Regions from separate parts of the Homo sapiens genome. Here all the other regions are linked to region 1. The links come from fine-mapping of genetic effects on gene expression. A gene starts in region 1. Each other region holds a variant in brackets. All regions are shown on one strand. Distances are between the middles of the regions.

Region 1 (5,231 bases):
GTTATATTGGCTTTAGGATCTAGGCTGCAGCTATACTTCACCATAAATTAAATAGCTGAATGACAAACAATCCTTTCAGCAGCATGTTCCATCACAATGGAAGGAGGGAGAAGGAGTAAGTAACCACAAAGAAAAGCATGGTCCCCCAGGAGGAAAGCAGCCCCAGAGCTGGCAGGGAAGAGGGTAAGTAGGCTGGGGTCAAAATAGCTAAATTACTGGAAACTAAATACCAGTAAAAAGTACTTTACCATCCCTGAAGACCACACCTAAGTTCTACATACTGAGCCCAGGAGCTTCAGTCTCTACAAATTAGTGATGTAGACAAATGAAGATATCCGTGCTTATCACCCCTAGCATATCATCTCATCCCTGGTAAAAGGAGATGGACTTGAAGATTTAAAAACAGGCTTCTTCGAGTTCCAGTTCTACCTTAGGCAAATCACTGAAACTCAAGTTTTCTTGTTGCAAAGTAGAAATAATAATGCTGGTTATATTTTTTCAAAGGGTGGAGAACACACACAAAAGTGATAATAGACATAAAAGCAGTTTGAAACAAAAGTAAATTATCATGCAATAGAAGACATACTAGCATGCTACTGACATGCATTCCTGTCAAATACAGAAATGTGAGCAATTTGGAGCATCTGTAACATCAGCCACAAATGGAGTAGCATTTTTTTCCCCAAGGTACTTTCATGGAGCTTCTCCTTTCAGCTTTATCATGTAGACAATGTGACCTGAGAGGGTTCTGCTGTCTGCAGAATCCTATCCTGATGAATCTTGATCAACAAACTCTTCTCCATCCATCAGACAGTTTATTTCAGTGACCCAATTGGACATATCATTTCTGGTTTTTGTGGTACACAAATGTAGCCATTTGCTTGGCTAGATCTCTAAGTAGCTGACATTTAAAGGGAAGCTGAAACTAGCTTCAGATACTTCTCTTATAATCACCAAGTAAACACAATATGGAAAAATAAGATTGACCTCACATCTTGCTTAGGGAATGAGTTTTCATTTTACAAAAATTAAAAGCAGTTTCCCTCTGCATAGACAGCTTCCCTATGTGAGAAGTTTTTTAAGTTCAATTAACAAAAATACAATTCCATACACCACTTTTCAGACAAACATCTACAGAATAAAGGGCAAAGGACACCTTTAGGTGGGGAGTGGACATTTTCCACAGCAGATAAACCCGTTTTCCTCATTTTGATTCTACACTTATATTTAGCATCGAACCATTTCCGTAATACCAAATTATAATATTGTAAAGGTCTGGCAGGAAACTCCGGAATATGTAGTAAGAAGCCTCCCATGAAAACAAAGACAAATTCACATCTCTCTAATTGGCTCCGTTGCTGTAGCTACCTTAGACTTGGTGAGCCTTGGGAGTTTCTATGAATAAACTCAACTAATATCAAATCTGTCTGCTGCACAAGTGCTCGGTTCATTATTGTGACAAATACAAAAAAAAAACCACTTTATTCATAAGAGCAAGTCAGAGTACCTTTAAACCTCTGTGTGTAAAAGAAGCAATGTTCTGATACTGTGAAACCTTAGCCGGTTGTGTGTTTCAATAGATGCTACTGTGGGGTTCTACTGGCATACGTGCCGAAGTCAGTCAATGACTGTAGATGCTTGGCTAAAAGGAGACTCCCTGGAGCCCAACAGCATCACTTGTGATCAAGGAAATACACCAAAATAAAGAGAAGGCATGTGAATTCTGACCACTCAAGAATTTTTGCCCTTTGGAGAAGAGATCCTTCAGAACCCTAGGGATGGTTTTGTGAACCACTCCCCACTCCCCCTCAAGTTTCAAACTAAAACTTCCAAAGAAAGAAGGCAGACACTTTAAAGCAGCCATCTCTCCTCTCTTCCACATCAGTTCTGCACTGAAATTGGATGCCAAGTGCTAGGCGGATCCTCGGGATCATCTCATCTTTGAGAACCCAAACTCTTAAGGGTCCTGTTTTGTTCACTCCTGCTTGCCTCCTCGCCAGCCAAGGTTCTACATGTTTGGAATCTACACAAGTCAGATTCTGTCAGTGACCACGAGGCACATGAGACATTTGGGCACCTCCGGCAGCACCTCCCAACTATTCCGGAGTCTCAAGCAGAGCCTCGCCTCCCCCAGGTCTAACCCGCAGGCCCTCTTTCTAATTAAGTGACCTTTCCAAGGAGCGTCCTCCAGCCGCGTCCTGGGGGACGAGTCAGGGGCTGAGCAAGGAGGCTCGACATCTCTGCGCTAAACACTCAACTGTTTGTTTTCTGCAAAGTGGCAGGACATATTTCGGTGGTGACCGCAGCAACGATTCGCTCCTCGATTGTTAGGCTCTGAGTGGCATTGGGGACACTGCGATCGACGGTTTGAAAGGAGTAAACCGTTGTTTTCGGGAACTTCTCTCTCACTGCTGTGGGATTGCGAGCGGAGGGAGAAAGAGAAAGAAAAGCCCACACAAAAGCAGCCAGCCCTGCAAGCTCCGCCAGCACAAAGGCCGGCTCGCTGGTGCGGAGCTGGGAGGCTGGGCTGGAGCTAGGAGTGCGGTGAGTCCTCCGAGGCCTGCGCGCCGCGCCCAGCGCGCCCAGAGCTGCCCCCGCGCACCCCACACCTGGGCACCGCGCTCCGGAGGAGGATCGGGGCGCACGCCTGGCGCACCCAGGGCTGCAACGCTCCCGGGACTGTTACGCTCGCGGAGCGACCCCACGCCACTGAGGCTCCGGTTCCGTCCCTGCCCCGGCGCCACGTCTGCAGCCGCGGCCGCCCAAGTGGCCGGAGCCGGGCCCGTCCTCACCTGTGCGCCTTCAGCTGAGCAGCGCGCGGAGGACAGAGGCAGCGGCGGCGCGGGCGCTCGGCATCCCAGCGGCGGGCCCTGCGGCGGCGGCGGCGGTAGCGGCGGCGACTCCCTCCGCTGTCTGGGACGCTAGGGGGAGGGCGCTTCGCTTTGTTGCTTATTCATAAGGCCGCGGCTACGGCCGGGGATTGGGCGGTGAGTAGGTGTGCCCGCCCTGGCTCTGCTGGCACTGACAGCCGACGCCGTCGCCCACGCCCCCCTGCGCCCACTTCCCCGCCTCCGCTCTCCCGCGGGGGCGGCTTCTGCTGGAGTCCCGGCACCTGGGACCCCTCGGAGATCCCGTGCTCCGCTTCCCCTCTTTAAGCGGGAGCTTCTGCGGCAGCTCGCCTCCCTATCTACGCGGAAGAGACCAGGGCACCGTTTACACGAGAAAAACCTCAATTTTGCTGTCTTTGGTTCAGGCAAGGAGCGCAAATCTGAGACTGCAGTGTTCCTTGTGGAAACTATGGACGGCTTGGCGGTGCCCTTAAGTAGGACCCTTAAAGTAACTCTACACAGAATGTCCCTTCTCAGTCCGTCGGAGAAGTTGCAAACTAGTGCTAGTCACAAGTAAGGTTTATTGAGCCCTTACTCCTGCCAGGCACAAGAGTAGATGCTTTGCCCATTACTTTACCTGCTTAATCTGCACGATAGAAGGGTAGATATTGTAGTTCTCATTTACCAGGGTAGGAGGTTAAGGCTAAGGGCTGTGTAACTTCTCCAAGGTCATCCGGCTCGCGTGGCCACCGGGAATTTGTGTCCTCCATTCTTGAGCCTCTCAAGGACTGTTTTCTTTTTCTGTTACTTCTAATGGTGTGGAAAGAGGTGTCGGAATCTAAAGGCCCGTTTTGGAACAACCTCCACAACGCAGCATTTTACATTTGCAGAGCACTCTTCACATTTGTCCCTTATTGTGCTTATTAGCTCCCTTCTTCATAATACCTTAGTCCCCTTTTGTAGTTAATTATAAACACCTTGAAGTCAGAGCAAAAGCTGGCTCACCTTTGACCCCCACACCTAACACAATGCACAGGTATGTACTGGTTTCTGTTTGTTTGTTTGTTTGTTTTTGAGACAGGATCTCACTCTTTCCCCCAGGCTGGAGTGCAGTGGCGCCATCATGGCTCACTGCAGCCTCGACCTCCTCCTGGGACCTCAAGCCATCACCCACCTCAGCCTCCTAAGTAGCTGGGACCACAGGCATGCGGCACCACGACTGGCTAATTTTTTATTATTATTATTATTATTATTATTATTATTATTATTATTATTATTGGTAAAGATGGGGTCTTCCTATCTTGCCCTGGCTAGTTTCAAACTCCTGGACTCAAGCGATCCTCCTGCCTCGGTCTACCGAAGTGTTTGAATTATAGACATGTGCCACGGTGCCCAGCAGGTATGCACTGTTACCCATTCCCCCTCCCTTTAGAAATTATTATCTATGTATAATCATGCATTGATTAATTAGGGGAATACATTCTAAGAAATGTATCCTTAGGCAATTTTGTTGTTATGCGAGCATAATAGTATACTTACACAAACCTAGATGGCATAGCCTACTACGTACCAAGGCTATATGGTATAGCCTATTGCTCCTAGGCTACAAGCCTGTACAGCATGTTACTGTACTCAGTACTGTAGGCAATTGTAACACAATGGTATTTCTATATCTAAACATTGAAACAATACAGTAAAAATACAGTATAAAAGATAAAAAATGGTGCATCTGTATAGAGCACTTACCATAAATGGAGCTTATAGGACTGGAAGTTGCTCTGGGTGAGTCAACGAATGATGAGTGAGAATATGAAGACCTAGGACATAACTGTACACTACTGTAATGTACGTAACCTTACACTACTGACATAACTGTATACTATTGTACATAACTACACTACTGTAGTTATGTAGGCTATAACTGTATGCTACACTACTACTGTAGTGTAAACAATGTACACTTAGGCTGTACTGTAGACATAAACATTTTTTCTTCAATAATAAATTAACCATAGCTTACCTGAATTTTTTACTTTATAAATTTTTTTTAACTTTTGACTCTTTTTTTCTTTGAGACAGGGTCTCACTCTGTCACCCAGGCTGGAGTCCAGTGGTACAATCACAGTTCACTGCAGCCTGGACCTCCTAACCTCAAGCAATCCTCCTGCCTCAGCCTCCCCAGTAGTTGGGACTACGGGCACATGCCACCACGGCTGGGTAACTTTTGACTCTTTTGTAATAACACAGCTTAAAACACAAACATATTGTACAGCTGTTCAAAAATATTTCATTTCTTTATTTCCTTATTCTATAAGCCTTTTTCTATTTAAAAAACAAAATTTTAAAAGGCCAGGTGGGTCATGTCTGTAATATCAGCACTTTGGTAGGCTGAGGCGGGTGGAT
Region 2 (5,231 bases), 53 kb before region 1:
CAATAGATGGCAATGAAAGAAGGCTGTCATCTGAGAAATATAAAAGGAGGGGAGAAGGGAGGAAAAGGGAAATACACATGACTCTTACCCAGGCCTTGATTCTGCTGTTCCCACTCGAGGGCATCTGGCACCTGGTAGGTAGCTCCCTCCAACAGGTCCATGTTTCCCTCCTCTAAGCCTGGTTCCTGGGATGTGATACCAGGGAGGGTAAAACCTGGCAGCTCAGTGTCACCATCCAAGCCCTCATCCAGCGAGTCTGCATCTTTATCTTCCTCATCTTCTTCCTCATCTTCCTCTTCTTCATCTTCATCTTCTTCATCCTCTTCATCCTCATCTTCTTGTCCCTCTAGGCAAAAAGAAATCAAAGGGAAGCATAAACATATAATGAGTTTATGCTGAAACAAATGAATCCTTGGAAATGATCCAAACACTACAAAATAATTGTTTGGCCTTTTGAAACACATCTTTATAGCCAAAGTCAGACAATGTGAACTTTGCAGGATTATACACCCACCATATGTCCTAGAGTTTAAACTTTCAAAACCATAGTTATGTCAGATAAGTATCAGGTATTATGTTTACTGGGAGTCAAAGTTCAAGTAATATGATTTGTTATTAAAGTTATTTATATTTACAAGGGTAGTAAACATCCCCTTGCTGTTTTCTGGAGATCATTAAAAGTTTATCAGTTAGCACACTGTGAAATACTAACAGAACTTAAAAGAAGCTGTTCCCATCCCTTTATAGCTCATAATGTTAAAGGAGACAATTCATTATTTTGGCACAGCTTTTTCTATTCATCCACATCAGTGAGTAGAACTCACAAAAATGGTAAGTGAGGAGCACATAAATTCACTCTTGGATCTTGTTCTCTCTAAGGAAGAGTAATCCAAGAAACTGGAAATAATTGCATCAACATTCTCAATCCAACTCTAAAGGAATTGGGAAGTGGGATATTCACCAGGAGTGGTCAGAAAGGCAGCACATTAAAAATTACCATTATCTTCATTGTAAGAGTTAACATTCACAATTCGTCGTTTTCTTGATTTTTTTTTTTTTATTTTTTATTTATTTATTTATTTATTTTTGAGACGGAGTCTTGCTCTGTCACCCAGGCTGGAGTGCAGTGGCGTGATCATGGTTCACCACAGTCTCAGACTCCTGGACTCAAGCCATCCTCCTCCCTCGGCCTCCCACAATGCTAGTATTATAGGCGTGAGCCATGGCACTTCACCACAAGCTGTCATTTTCAATGCTCCAAGTGGAGTGGGTTTAAGGAACATATGATTCCCAATTTCATTTTGTTTCACCAATGTTAATTTCCTAGTAATACTTCAAGGCCCCATCCTCACCATGGATGCACCTCTGAAGCCCCTGGTAAGTGCCCACAAAGTTCACAGAAGGCCTTCCCTTTGCTCTCTCCCCTTGACTCTCGGCACAGCAGTTACTGCAACAGGTAATTCTCCTCCTATGGTGGAGAAAAGAAGGGAAGAAGAAGAACTGGAGCCACCCAAGAATTGTGAGACTCTCCTTTTCTGCTTCTACACAACTTTCTCCACCCATACTACCTTTCCTCTATCATTCAGAGGCTTTTTAACTTTTAAAAAAAATCACCTTTAATCTTTTTTTATTCTTATATGTCCTTTAACTTTGTAGGATTAATGTCTGTCACTATTCTAAAAATTCAACAAATATGTATCAACCCCCTAACGGGTGCCGTTGCAGACACTAGGGATAAAAGCAATAACGTCTCTGCCTTCGTGGAGCCCATGTGCCACCCAGGGAGACTCACAGCAAACAAACAGATACACCAATAGGCAGGTGACTCTACACTCTCATTAAAACTGGCAAGAAGATAGAAAACGCCAGGCACTGCTATTTTAGAAAGGGTGATTAAAGAAAGCTTTTCTGACAAGGTAAAGTTTGAACAGAGGCCACACCAAAATAATGCATTCTTTTGTTTAATTTAAGTCAACATCTACAGGAAGAGCATTCCCAGTGGAGGAAATGGCAAGGACCTAATCCTTGAGGCAGGTGTGGCCTCGCTGTGTTCAAACAATGGCAAAGAAGCCTGGGCTGGGAGGCACAGGGCAAATACAGGAAATGAGGTAGGAAGAAGTAGGCAGGGGCCAGATCTGACTTTTTTTTTTTTTAAGTCTTTTATTTATTTCAATAGGTTTTT[G/T]GGGAACAGGTAGTACTGACTTATATTTTTAAAGAATGACTCTAGCAGCAGGGTGGAGAACAGGCTATATCAAAGCAAGAGATGAAAAAAGAAGGCTGACAAGGAGTCCACTTAAAAACCAGGAATAGATTATGGTGCTTTGGACTAGGGTACAATCTGGAAAGAGGAGAGAGGTAGTCATATCGGGGATGTAATTTCAAGGTAGAACCCTGCTGATAAGTACAATGTGAGATGCAGGAGGAAGATCCCACATGACTGAAAACGGGATCTAAAAGATAAGGAGTCAAAACAAGAATTTGCATTTGAGATACAGTAACTGTGTGATGGCCTATGGCATCCAAGGGAATGTTGGAAGTCTAGGGAAGTTTCAAAGCTAGAGATAAATTTTGGGAATTGTCAATTTATTAATAATATTCAAAGCCTTGAGACTGGCTGAGATTATCAAGAAGGTGAATATAGACAGAAAGGGAAATGGTCCAGACCACATTCCCGGGCAAAGCCACCACTTAGAGGGTGACCAGCAGAGGAAGATCCACACAGGAAACAGGAGTAACCACCAGGGTGGGAGAAAATCCAAGAAGTGTGTGGTGTCAGGGAAGGCAAATGAAGAAAGCGTCTCCAAGGGCCCGAGTAAGAGACTGAGGGTGTCCCTCTGGCTTGGACATTGGGAGGGCACGGGGGACCTTGACAAAAGTTGTTTTGGAGGAATGATATAGACAAAGGCCAGGTTGGAGTGGTTCAAAAAAAGATTAGAAAAGAAGACACAACAAACAAACAAAAAATTCTTACCAGAAATTTGGCTAAAAGGAGAACAGAGAAAATAGGGGGCAGGTGGAGAGAGACACAGGGTCAAGGGTAGGGTCTTAAAATAGAATATAGAAAATAGAACCTGCTTGTAAGTTAATGGGTCAGATCTCATCGAAAGGGGCAATCAATGAGGCAGGAAAGACAGAAGCAGCTGCGGGAGAATATCCTGGGAGACATGGTATTATACAGTGGCTGCATGCATAGACTCTGAAGCCACACAAATTTATTACGGCTGTGTGATTTTTGCACACGTTGCTGAATTTTGCTGTGCCTCAACCTCCTCGTCTGTAAAACTGATATTATTCCTACCTCACAAGGCTGTTGTAAGGATTTCATTAGTTAATTTATAAGGTACTTAAAACTAAGCCTGGTGCATACTGGACAGGTTGGCTTCTTCATAATGACTAAAAGAAGACAAGGTCCAGTGCACAGGCTGGTTTGGATACATCCTCCCCTGAAACGGTAGGAAAAAGGGAAGGCAGAGAAACAGGCATGGTGCAGGAAGGTGGGCAGATTTGGTGGGTAGGGGATCTTTATATTTCTTTTATTCTCGGTCAAATAAAAAAACTGGAAAGGAAAAGAGAAATGTTGGTGGTTTGAGGTGAGAGGAAAAAGCGTGAAATAGTCGTCTTGGAGAGTAGGCGAGTACATTCTCAGAGAAATGGGGCAGGACTGCCAGGCAGCCCTCTAGGCCCACTTCAGATGTGACATCATATATCTAAAGTGAGACCTGTTAAGATGGTTGTGAGTTTTTCTCAAGCCACATTCAGCTGCTTGGGCGCAGGCATGGGTGGAGAGGTGAGTAGGCACAGAGATTTAACCAGCAGCAAGTTTTACCAGAAGAGCTCAATTGAGAGTGTGAGGGATAGAGAGAGGGTAAGAAAGGGTACTGATTGTGTGTGAAGGAGTAATTATAAAGATGGACCAGGGACTCTAATTAAAGAGAAGTTGAAAAAGAGGCTGGATAGAGGAAACATGATGGAAATTTAGGTTATTAGGAAAACTATCAGGAACCATTAAAACTACCTGAGGACTTCCATGTCTTTATTTTAGATTCTTGACAGGTGTTTTCTCCTCCTCTTGGGGGTGGATCCGAAAGGAGTGGCACCCCTTCCTTCTCCTGGAGTGCCCCTGCCTGTACCCCCAAGACCAAGATCACAGCTTCACAATGTAGCAGGGACTCCTGGCCATCCCTCAAAAGTAACTGTTTCTGTGCTAGAAAACTGAAAAACAGCAAGGGCCAGAAGTGAACCAGAGTGCAGAGTGAGGCAGAATCAGTGAGTCAGAGTGATGACGTGGGGCCTCCATGCTAAGGCAGAAAGAAAAACAAGCAGACAGACATCCAAAGGAAAAGCCAAAGATGTTGACCAGAAGGATTAAGCTGTGGGACACTAAGGCCCACATCACCTGCCGCCTGTGTAGTGGGCACCTCATTGATGCAACCAGGGTGACCAAGTGTCTGCACACATTCTGTAGGGGTTGCCTGGTAAAGTATTTGTAAGAGAACAACACCTGCCCTGCATGTAGGACTGTGATGCGTCACACTCACTCACTGCAGTACATCGGTCATGAGAGCACCATACATGAGACTGTTTACAAATTGGTATCAGGTCTCCAAGAAGCAGAAATGAAAACAGAGAATTCTGTCACAAATTGGGCATGGAAGTGCCTAGAGACATCAAAGGGGATACTTGTTCCACAAAACAACACTTAGATTTCCATCAGAATGGTGAAATGAAAGCAGAAGACAGTTCAAACAAAGACCAAAAAAGAGAAAAAGGAAAAGGACAATGATTTTCACAGAAGTGATGAGCAGGAAAGCAACAGCAGCAAGTTGTGGGGACTGAAAAGGAAATGAATCTGCTGCATAGCCCAAGCAATGGTCTGACATCTAAAGAAGTTCACTGCCAAAAATCTTAACCTTTTGTCCTTCAATGAGGTAATAGTCAATCCATAAAGAGAAACTCAAGCAAGTCAATTCTTAGGTAAAAATGACATTTCTAAAATTACTTGGGTTTTTTTTTTTCACAACTTTGTTTGGAGATTTTAACCAGAAAAAAATCTCAATTTGTTTTGCCTGCCCTGCCCGGTAGCATGATAGAAAACAGCAGTGAGGATTGTGAAAAGCCCAGACACCATGGACATGAAGAACCCACCATTGATAGAAGAGAAAACGGGGGAGAGGGTGTGGAGAGGAGGGCAGGTGATGAAACTGTTTTAAAATACGTTAAAGATATTCCTC
Region 3 (5,231 bases), 160 kb before region 1:
GTTCCAGCTGATCCCAAGATCATAATATTCTTCATCTCCCTCCTCCACTATCCACTTTAGACTTTTCTCACCCTTGCCTGATGTAGGCTCATTAACATCTTGCCTGATCTAGATTGCTTGCTTGGAGGGTGACCTTGAGTGTGAGAATGACAGCACAATCCACCAATGTGAGTCTCCTGATACACTTCCATACAGATCCTCTGGCTTTCATGACATGCCTTATGTTGCTAATTAACAAACCTGAGCCTGTCATTTTCTTCATTTGCTTTTTTCAAAGCCTCCAAAGCAGTCTAAACACACCAGCCAGCTCAATCCTTGTTATTACCATTGCTCCTGTACTATTTAAGGACCACGGCTATCACACCACCCAATGCTCTGCCTCTGCCTGCACCTCATCCCAATCCACCTCAGTAAGAGTCTTAGTAACTGAGATGGCGCTGGCCAGATACCACCACTCCACCCACCTCCAAAAATGGAGTCCTTATTACCTCTGAACAGTGAGTGATCTCACTCCAAAATCCCAATTATTGTAGCCTGAGTTCCCCTGAAAGCAGGACCTCAGACAAAGTCTTGCATGCAAGTAGCAGTGAAACAAGGAAAGAGAGAAGGCCAATACAAGGATGAATTTTCAAGGTAGCATTGCAATGGACAACCAGTGCTCAATCCTAAGGACTATTCTGAGAAGCCTCATGAAACGTATCTGAGAACCGGCCACATGAGCAACAAATGGTGGGAGGATTTATCCATCAGTTTCCATCCTCATTCGTTAAGGCCCACCAGGTTAGCCCCCCTAACATTTCCAGGTTGTACATGTGTGAGTGACAAGTGAAACCCCACAATAACCCACACCCTGGCAAACTGGTGGAAGCCTGTGCCAAACTAAATGCTACTTAGGTGACTGGAATAAAAGATAGGATTTGAAGTGTCTGTTACACTTCCTCTAAGAGGTGTCTGATACACTCCCTCTAAGATGTCCCTTAGGTTCCTATTTTCCCAGGATCATTCCAGTTTATGCCTGTTATCCCATTGTAATTAACAGTGTCCCCACTTTTTTGTTTTTGAGATAAGGTCTCATTCCATCACCCAGGCTGGAGTGCAGTGGCATGATCATGGCTCACTGCAGCCTTGACCTCCCAGGCTCAAGTGATCATCCCATCTTAACCTCCCAAGTATCTGGGTCCACAGAGGCACATCACCACATCTGGCTAATTTTTAATTTTTGGTAGACACAGGGTCTCCCTACATTGCCCAGGCTGGACTCAAACTCCTGGACTCAAGTGATCCATGTGAGCCAGCGCACCCAGCTGTGCCCCTTTCACTCTCAATTGTATCCCAGTTTAGACCATAAGGATATATTCACTTAGTGCACTCGCTCTCTCTCTTTCTCTCTCTCTCATACACAGACACCCATCCCCCCCACCTTCTACCCACCTTCCAACACACACACACACACACACACACACACACACACTTTGAGAAGCACAAAAACAATCCCCCATAGAATTGGTTTATTCATAGTTGTTTTCTTCTTCATGGTTGTTTTTCTTATTTTTTACTGCCCTTTGCAGAAACGTCTCTTGATACAATGCATTTTGCGTTCATTGAAATAAATGAAGAGTGCATCCAAAGAAACCACCTTCTACTAAATCTTTAAACAAGGAACAGGTCTTGTGCCACACATTGCATTTTAATAAACTTAATTTAATGAAGCGCTGCATTCCACAAGTACAGTCAGTACAGTAGCTCTCCTTTGGGATGGAAAAATTACAAGAAGCAATGCCGAGGACCGTGAACTGTATACAGAAGCCTTGTGGATCTAGAAACCAACAGTGTGTGAACTTAGGACATTCTCAAGTTTTAAAACGTGGCCATTATAATATCATCACATTACATAAATATCACATCACCAATATTCGTTTTGTTTTTTTCTTTTAGAACCAAAAAAAAATGCTTGTAAACTGCAAAATTACTTTAGATCACTGCGATAAATCTGAATTAACTACTAGGTACCGTCAGCCCTTCATATTTGTGAGTTACACATCTGTGGATTCAACCAACCCTGGATGGAAAATACTCAGAAAAAAAAATCAGTACAGAGTAGTGTCTGTACTAAACAGGTACACACTTTTTTTTCTTGTCATTATTCACTAAATACAGTAATAACAACTAATTACATAGCATTTACATATTAAGTATTATATGTTTAGAGATGATATAAAGTATACTTGAGGATGTGCATAGGTTATTCGCAAATACTACACCAAGTTATGTAAGGCGCTTGAGCATCCATGAATTTTGTTATCAGCAGGGAGTTCTGGAACCAATCCCCCATGGATACCTAGAGACAACTGTAATTGCAAACTACTTCAGTGAATAACAGAAGCTAACTAAAAACTTAGTTCTGAATGATTGGATTGTCTGTTGCACTCTACCTACTGAAG[CAG/C]AGTGTTTACATGGCCACAGGTAATTCATTCAGTAATTTCAGGGTATGACTCAAGATGCAGTATTCTTCTCTGCGGCTCTTCGCCTTGGAGCACTTGGAAGATGCATTATCTGCTGAAAAACCAATGTTCAGTGTGGGCTGATATAATAAAAATTAAATACTTTAAAAACTGAATCAAAATCATAGCTAAAAATCAATGCTATATAGTTTCTATGACATGAAAAATCTGTGAACAAATCATTTATTACAGGTCTTGTTTTATGTTTCTCTTGTCAAAGATAATTATTTATTACAAGTGAGGTTTCTGCCATCAGCAGAGTCAAGGGTAACCTGGAGTGCCTACCTCTTTGAATTGTGATACTCAATCGAGTTTATCCATGTTAAGTACTGAGCACAGCACTTGGCCTACAGCAAGAGCTCAAGAAGTATTTGTGATTTTATTATCGCTAAGTAAAAATAAATTTGAGTTTCACTAAGATTTTTGAAATTCACATTTTATTTGCATGGCATAAAACTAGCCTATTCAACAACTCCCCATAATTAAACTTGAAAAGATCCTGATTATTTATAACAGAAAATAATTATGTCCCTAATTCATTTATTTGCCTTTTTTTTTTCTGGTTGCCTTTGATTGACTTCTGACCTTAAGCATGAACAGAAATGTGTGCTAAAAAGCCTGGTCTTTCCAGTGAAGAGTCAATCAGTTTGCCAAATGCTTACTCCATAATTTTAATCTAATAACATTTTACTAATAACATTTTATGAACAAGAACTTACTTTCACATCCAGACAATATTTTTAGAATAAAGCTCATTGCACCTTATAATGTGCTTTATTTAATGTCATCTTCTACCATGTGCAAGAAGTTTGGGGGAGTATGGGCTAGTAGAGATGTTTACAAAGGTCTTGATTGAAAGACCCACAGGGCTTTGTTAATTGGTTTTAAAGATACTTACAATTTCTCTGCAAATACATAGAACAAAGACAATAAAACGTTATTTAGTAAGATATAAGTCCTATTGAATCAGTTGGTACCCACTTTCATTTATAGACCCTTCAGAGCTGAAAGGGATGGGGAAGAGGGTGGATGAAGAAGGTCTAATGGAGAATACACAGAAGAAGCAGAAGCCATGGCTCCTCTTTTTAACAATGACAGAGAAAGGAAAACAATGGACATAGCAATAAACATTTGCTCATTTAATTTTAGTCAAGTTAAATCAAATGTAAAAAATGTGTGCCCTATAATAATAAATGACACAAAAATACTAATTAGATTCAAGAGAGTTGAACTGAATAACCCTTTAATCAATTTAAGTCACACAGTAAGTGTCCTTTTCCCCAGTATTTCTCATAATACTACATATTAATTGCGCTTATGGTTATTCAGTCTTATTATTTAATTATAAAAGCTTATAGCTTTTACTTTGGGGGCAAAGACAAAGAGAAGAAAGTGTTCTCTAATCCCTTAAGGAACAAGAATATGACATTTGCCAATGTGCGTTGTGTTTATGGAGACTTCTTTCAACTCTGTTCTTATTTTCATCCTATGGAGGCATCCTGAGGTAAATGGGCAGTTATGGACCATCAAATGCGAAATAAATGTTTTAATGAGGAAACACAGCTTGCTCGTTCAAATACAACTTAGGATTTTCACAAGCTGTTTTCCTTTCTTCTATTCCTCTTAAAACAACCATGGGAAAACATAGCTACAGAGAGGTAACAAAATACTATGTAAATTATAATCCTGATTTTGTATAAAAATAAAAGTATTTATTGCATATCATAAATGCATAGGAAAAAAAAGATTAGAAAAGTACAGACCAAAATGTTACCAATGTTTATTATTGTTAACATTTCGGGTGGGACTGGAATGATAATTATTCTTAAGTTTTTCTGAATTTTCTCAATTCTGCATATCATTGTCCCTGAGGCCCTCCAGAATCTGGCCTTGTGCTGATATGGCAACTATGGGAAACTTGCTTTATTTTTTATATGCTAAGGAAGGTAAGTGGCTTGACGATTGCCCGTAAGAACTGTCAAAAGGCCACAGAAACTGCTCAGCACCAGGACACAGAGCTGCATTGCTTGATTCTGCAGGCTGCACATCTAAGACCAGATGTTGTCCTCATACATACCAGCCCTGAGAAAAAAGTTTCTTGGATTTGTTTTCAAGAAAAACAAGATATTGAGCTTTGTTCCCTTGTCAAAGAATAAGAAACTCTCCTATTAGCCTTTACAAATCAAGACAGTCAAACAGATCTGAGATAGTAACTCATATCTAGGGATCAACCAAAGTAATCCCCTAAAGGTATTAGGAGAATTTTCCCAGATATTTAAGTTTCATTAAATGCAAAGTTAGTTCACTGGTACCTACTATTAAAAGTAACAGAAAATGGCGAGGTGCAGTGGCTCATGCCTGTAATTCCAACAGCTCAGGAGGCTGAGGCAGCATAGCTTGAGCCCAGGCGTTCGAGACCAGCCTGGGCAACATAGTGAGACCCTGTCTCTACAAAAAATAAAAAAAAAAAAAATAGCTGAGAGTGCTGACACACATCTGTAGTCCTAGCTACTCAGGAAGTTAAGGGGGAAGGATCACTTAAGCCCAAGAGTTTGAGGCTGCAGTAAGCCATGATTGCACCATTGCACTATAGCCTGAGTGACAGAGTAAGACCCTGTCTCAAAAAAAGTAAACAAAAGAAGTCACAGAAAATGACCACACATTTACACTTTGTAAAAATTAATGCTGCCTATACATTTCTGGCAGGCTTGTAGGTTATTTTTCTCAGGC

Which allele goes with the higher level. Positions count from the first base shown, and alleles are read on the strand shown. Sizes are in standard deviations (SD) of each study's normalised expression.
As copies of G replace T in region 2, the expression in visceral fat of the gene that starts at base 2,931 in region 1 goes down (moderate effect, 0.42 SD a copy in GTEx).
As copies of CAG replace C in region 3, the expression in testis of the gene that starts at base 2,931 in region 1 goes up (small effect, 0.26 SD a copy in GTEx).

Evidence for each region.
Region 2: its variant is fine-mapped to the expression of ARMH4 in visceral fat (GTEx, PIP above 0.99).
Region 3: its variant is fine-mapped to the expression of ARMH4 in testis (GTEx, PIP 0.98).

Annotation. Positions count from the first base shown.
Region 1 is chr14:58,149,283-58,154,513 of GRCh38, forward strand. ARMH4 (armadillo like helical domain containing 4) reads right to left here and starts at 2,931. Exons shown (of 8, transcript NM_001001872.4): 1 at 2,793-2,931. RefSeq lists silencers at 2,466-2,655, 2,756-2,975, 2,869-3,163, 3,056-3,125.
Region 2 is chr14:58,096,636-58,101,866 of GRCh38, forward strand. ARMH4 (armadillo like helical domain containing 4) reads right to left here. Exons shown (of 8, transcript NM_001001872.4): 5 at 89-346. It also overlaps the pseudogene LOC100420347. Among named protein-coding and RNA genes, the nearest start is that of ARMH4, 53 kb to the right of the region's middle. The variant G/T (reference allele first, on the strand shown) is at 2,183.
Region 3 is chr14:57,991,865-57,997,095 of GRCh38, forward strand. No RefSeq gene overlaps it. Among named protein-coding and RNA genes, the nearest start is that of SLC35F4, 130 kb to the left of the region's middle. The variant CAG/C (reference allele first, on the strand shown) is at 2,442.